2 separate regions of the Homo sapiens genome follow, and region 2 is linked to region 1. Evidence: fine-mapped expression QTL. Tissue or cell type: whole blood. Region 1 holds a variant in brackets; the other region holds the start of a gene. All regions are shown on one strand. Distances are between the middles of the regions.

Evidence for each region. PIP is the estimated chance that this variant, and not a neighbour inherited with it, causes the effect.
Region 2: it holds the start of TRAP1, and the variant in region 1 is fine-mapped to the expression of TRAP1 in whole blood (INTERVAL, PIP 0.96).

What each region holds. Positions count from the first base shown.
Region 1 is chr16:3,666,244-3,669,154 of GRCh38, forward strand. The region is part of intron 11 of TRAP1 (TNF receptor associated protein 1); the gene reads right to left. Among named protein-coding and RNA genes, the nearest start is that of DNASE1, 13 kb to the left of the region's middle. The variant C/A (reference allele first, on the strand shown) is at 1,512.
Region 2 is chr16:3,715,892-3,718,802 of GRCh38, forward strand. It overlaps TRAP1 (TNF receptor associated protein 1), which reads right to left and starts at 1,633. Exons shown (of 18, transcript NM_016292.3): 1 at 1,530-1,633. The coding sequence starts at 1,617. RefSeq lists silencers at 1,234-1,353, 1,374-1,983.

The DNA.
Region 1 (2,911 bases):
TGGCCAAACTGAAAAAGACTGAGCAGAAAGACAGAAACCCTGGGCAGTGGCCGGACAGGAGGCAGCAGGGTGGAGGGCAGACACCCCCTGGAGGCAGTAGGAGAACCGATGCCCCCAGAGACAAGATACCCACGCCCGGAAAACCCTTCCAACCTTTGAGCCAGTTGTTCCAATTATAGGAACTGCACCTTAGGAAACATGTGAGCACACCAAGATTTATGTACCAGGATTTTCACTGTGGCACATAAAATATAACAATTATGAACAACCTCATGTTCAAGAATATAGGCTAAAATTATGTAATGCTAAATGGCCATAAAAAAAAAAAACTGCATCTTTTAATAATCCTCAATGACATGAGAAAGTTAGCTGTGTTGAAAGAAAACCCAGAAAAATCCCAATGTGGGTAAATTACAGTACGTCTATAGATACAGGCAAAGAATGCACATTCTACATGTACATAACAATTTTCCATCATTAGGAGCAGCACTGTATATACTATATATGTACACTGTAATTTGGGATTTATACTGAATATATGTATACTCTAATTTTTCAAAATTGGGATTTTAGGGATCAGGATATTTACTGCAGCATTACATAATGGCCTAAAATTAGGAACAACTTTATCACTGGGACTAGGGATATTTTTATTTTCTTCTTAATATTTAGTCTTTCCTTTAAGCAGGTAAATTACAATGTATTTCAATAATCCAGAGCATGGGAACAACACTCTCTCGAGTTCATTTAGAGCCTTTCCTCCCACACTCCATCCCCAGTGACTCAGTCCTTCAGCCACAGGGCAGAATGGGACAGGACATGCCTTCGTGCCTGGGAGCGGGGGGACAGTAGCCCAGGATGCGGTGCAGAGCCCAGGGAAGGTGTCTATGCAGGGCCATGGTTGGGAAGAGCCTGGTATGGGTGTCAGAGCCCAAGAACCCCAGAGAAGGGTGTCCAGGCTGGGGGCGTGACCAGCCCACCGTGAAGAGTCAGAGCCCAAGTAGGTGACAGGGACACCCGCAGAAGAGGGCAGTGGCAATGGTAGATTGGTTACATGGAGGGGGATTGGTCAAATGGGTAACCGTGCTAAGAATAATCAACGGGGCATGGTGGCTCCTGCCTGTAATCGCACCACTTTGGGAGGCTGAGGCGGGCGGATCACCAGAGGTCAGGAGTTTGAGACCAGCCTGGTCAACATGGTAAGCCCCCGTCTCTACTAAAAATACAAAAAATTACCAGGGCATGGTGGTGGGTGACTGTAGTCCCAGCTACTTGAAAGGCTGAGGCAGGAGAATCGCTTGAATCCGGGAGGCAGAGGTTTCGGTGAGCCAATACCTCGCCACTGCACTCCAGCCTGAGCAACAGAGTAAGACTCCATCTCAAAAATAAATAAATAAATAAATAAATAAAAATAAAAAAATTTTATTAATGATAGCAAGATTATAAACTCTTGAATAAAACAGGAAATCAGCCCATATAAATAAATTATAAATAGTATAAATATAACACAT[C/A]AATTTTTTTTTTTTTTTCCATCCGACGAATCTTGCTCTTGTCCCCCAGGCTGGAGTGCAGTGGCGTGATCTCGGCTCACTGCAACCTCTGCCTCCCGGGTTCAAGCAATTCTCCTGCCTCAGCCTCCCAAGTAGCTGGGATTACAGGCACCTGCCACCATACCCGGCTGATTTTTTTTTTTTTTTTTTTTTTGAGATGAGTCTCGCTCTGTCGCCCAGGCTGGAGTGCAGTGGCGTGATTTTGGCGCACTGCAATCTCCACCTCCCAGGTTCAAGCAATTCTCTGCCTCAGCCTCCCGAGTGGCTGGGATTACACCTGCCTGCCACCACGACTGGCTAAAATTTTGTGTTTTTAGTAGAGATGGGGTTTCACCATCTTGGCAGGCTGGTAACTCCTGACCTCGTGATCCACCCGCCTCGGCCTCCCAAAGTGCTGGGATTACAGGAGTGAGCCATTGCGCCCAGCCTAATTTTTCTATTTTTTAAGTAGAGACGGGGTTTTACCATGTTGGCTAGGCTGGTCTCGAACTCCTGACCTCAGGTGATCTGCCTGCCTCGGCCTCCCAAAGTGCTGGGATTACAGGCGTGAGCCACCGCGCCCGGCCAACACATAAATATTTTAAGTAAATAAATGAATGTATTGAGAGTTTCATGAAGAATGTGACATTTACATAGCTTCAAAATACCTATAACATCTGTTAATTACAAAGGGAAGGACATCCTTGTTTGTTGGAAATGCACCCCAAAGGCATCGAGAAGGCAACTTCCTCTCACAGGATTCGAGGAAAAACATGTTCTTGGTACCATGCTTCCAACTTTTAAGCCTGTGATTCTTTCAAAAGCTCTAATTTCGGCTGACTCTTTTCTGATCGAGATGAGTTCTCAGACTGACAACGCAACCTTTGACAACCACAAGCTGGGATGAGGACCCCTGCTCTGCAGCTTCGGGCACTACCAGTGGGCCAGCATGCCTGCCACAGCCAGGAATGCAGCTCCCTTACTGAGCAGGACCACCCCTCTGTGACTCAGTTTCCACAACTATGAGTGAGGACTCACGGCTCCCCTCACAGGATGAAACACGTGTTTATGCAGGCTCAGCACAGTTCTCAGTGGAGAAGAAATACTCAGGAAACACATTCAGGATGGGGAGAGGAACGCAGCCGCCTCGGCCCGCAGGGACGCCAGGAGCTCCCTCTCCACAGGGCCTGGCCCCTGCCTCCACTTCATCCGTGAGCTTCCCAGATGAGGCCAGACGTGTCCTCAGTTCAGTGGGTGTCCTTTGCCTTATCCAGCCCAGGGACATTGTACCTGGAACCTCCCCTCCTGTGGCCACTCCTGGGCAGGGTGATGGGGATGGACAAGGTGGGGACAACTCCAGCACCAGCAATAATAATCCGGGA
Region 2 (2,911 bases), 50 kb after region 1:
TCACTCTGTCGCCCAGGCTGGAGTGCAGTGGTGCAATCTCAGCTCACTGCAATCTCTGCCTCCTGGGTTCAAGCGATTCTCCTGCCTCAGCCTCCCAAGAAGCTGGGATTACAGGCGCGCGCCACCACACCCAGCTAATTTTTGTATTTTTAGTAGAGACAGGGTTTCACCATGTTGGCCAGGCTGGTCTTGAACTCCTGATCTGCCCACCTCAGGCTCCCAAAGTGCTAGGATTACAGGCGTGAGCCACCGCGCCCGGCCACAAGGTATCTTTTATAGACCACTGGTTTTGAAAAGACATAAGATTCAGCGTTGAAGAAAATACCTTTGGAATAGGCAGTCTTGATGCCTGCTAAAGGGGATATAAATTGATAAGGCCTTTTTGGACAATTTGGCAGTATCTGCTAACATTTCAAAAATGCATAGGCTCTGAAATATCAATTCTAAAATTCTAATTATGTAAGGCTAAAGAAATACCGCACGTGAACAAATATTTAAGTACTCACCCATTCTATGCAGCATTGTAATAAAAAGTAAAACCTGAAATAACCTTTATTGCGTCCACTAATAGGACAATGTTTAAACAAATGACACGTCCATCATACAGAATACTGTGTGGTCACTGGAAGGCACATGGACCTGTATACACTGACATGAAAAGATGTGGAAAGAATGCTGGGAGCGTTAAAATTTTCTGAAGTACAACGTAGCACAATGCATACATGGTTTAGGCTTTTTAGAATAAAAAATACTTATACGCAGACATTTATATTTACACGTATAACACTGTGTACAGCCCCGAAGCAATGCCGAAACTTTCACTGTTGTTACCTCCGAGTGGGGACTGGGAAAGCAGAGGTTAGGGTCGTTCTCTCTGTTTTACAAACATTTATTGGCGCATCCATCAATTCCAGGCCCCGAGGACACAGCTGCGTCAACGACATCGAGTCCACCTGCTCTGGGGACCCGGATGACTGCTATAGGTTTTGTTCACTGTGGCGTCCCCAGAACCTGCACGGCGCCGGGCACTGAGCGGGCGCTCACATGTGCGTCCAATGAACGAATTAACAAATGAACCCTCAGTGCGCTACTGGGAGGCGGGGAGGGGTAAAGCACGATCCATGGAACTAGCACGATCACCCCGAGTGAGTCCATTCCCCGCAACATGCACCCGCAAAGACTCCGCGCTCCGCAGCGGCTCCACCTGCACGTGCGCTACCTGACTGGACCGAAGCTCCAGGAGGGACGACCCCGCAGCCGCTCCGCCCGACCCCGCGACCCCCCAAGACCCAGCCTCCTTCAGGGCTCCCATGGGCGGGTGGCGAGGGGAGTCCAGCCGAGGAAAAGGCAGCCAAGCTGGAGCTGGCGAGGAGCGGAGCGAAAGTAAACGCGTCTGCCGCGCTTGGCCTCGCCGGACCTCCCACGCCTGTGAAGCAGGTGCCGGCGCCTCGCTCCCCGGAGCACAGGGACGTCCCTGCCGTCTCCGTGGCCCGGCCCGCCCGCTGCCCGTCCAGCCAGGACGCCCTCACCTCCCGGCACGGCCGCCAGCGCCGGCGCCCGCAGCAAAGGCCGCAGGCGGCGGCCCCACAGCAGCAGCGCCCGCAGCTCGCGCGCCATGTCGTACTCCCAGAGCGCCGCGCGCAGCCACGCGGGACCGTACACGATGGGAAGGGGCGGGACGGGGCTGCGCGGGGCGGGGCTTCCTCGGGCGCGGGGCGGTGACGTCACGGCGGGCGCCGGGCTGTCCGGGCAGCTGCCTGCTCGGGCGCGTGGCGGGGTACTACCCGTCTCGTGGACGGTCGGGCCTGGGGGTGGGACCTCCGTGACCTTGGATCGCGTTGTCAAGGGCGACGGGCCTTGCGCGCGGAGGTGGGGGAGGTGGCCCCGCCGCCCCCGGCCCACGCTGGCCGGCTGCGCCTAGCTGTGCGCATTCCTGGAATGGGGCGGATGTCAGTATCCACGCGAGGGTGTGGAGGCGACGCTGGGGAAGAAGCAGTTCCCGTGTCTGCGACCTTTGTGAATCCCGGCCATCCGTCTAGGCCGCTGCAAGTCTCTTGCAAACCAAGACTGGACAAAAAGCTAAAGCGAATGAGGAAGGGGATTCCAGGCTTGACTGGCTACTACTCCAAAACCTGAACCCAGTGACCAATACCACCAGGAAAACTGCGGTTATTCGTTTATTCCACTTCTCTTGTCCTTGTCGAGAAGAGTCAAACTCTAAAGTATTTAGAAGGTTATTCTGAGCCAAATATGAGTGTGCATGGAGGGAGGCACAGTCTCAAAAGGTCCTGAGAACTTGGCCCAAGGTGCTTGGGTTACAGCTTGCTTGGTTTTATACATTTTAGAGAGACATAAGACATCAGTCAATGCATGTAAGACATAGGTTGGTTCCGTGTGGAAAGGCAGGACAACTCAAAGGGTGAAATACTTAGAGGTCATAGGTGGATTCAGATACTTTCTGATTGGCAATTGGTTAAAAGAGTTGAGTTCTGGTTGGGCGCGGTGGCTCACGCCTGTAATCCTAGCACTTTGGGAGGCTGAGGTGGGCGGACTGCCTGCGGTCAGGAGTCCGAGACCAGCCTGGCCAACATGGTGAAAACCCATCATCTCTACTAAGATACAAAAAATTAGCTGGGCAAGGTGGCACGTGCCTGTAGTCCCAGCTCCTGGGGAGGCTGAGGCGGAAGAATAGCGTGAACCCGGGAGGCTGCGGTTGCAGTGAGCCGAGATCGTGCCACTTGCACTGCAGCCTGGGCGACAGAGCTGTGACTCCGTCTCAAAAAAAAAAAAAAAAGAAAACAAAAAAAAGAAAAAAAAGAGTTGAGTTATACAGACCTGGAATCAATAAAAAGAGTGTCTGGGTGAAGATAAGGGGTTGTGGGCACGAGCACGGTGACTCACACCTGTAATC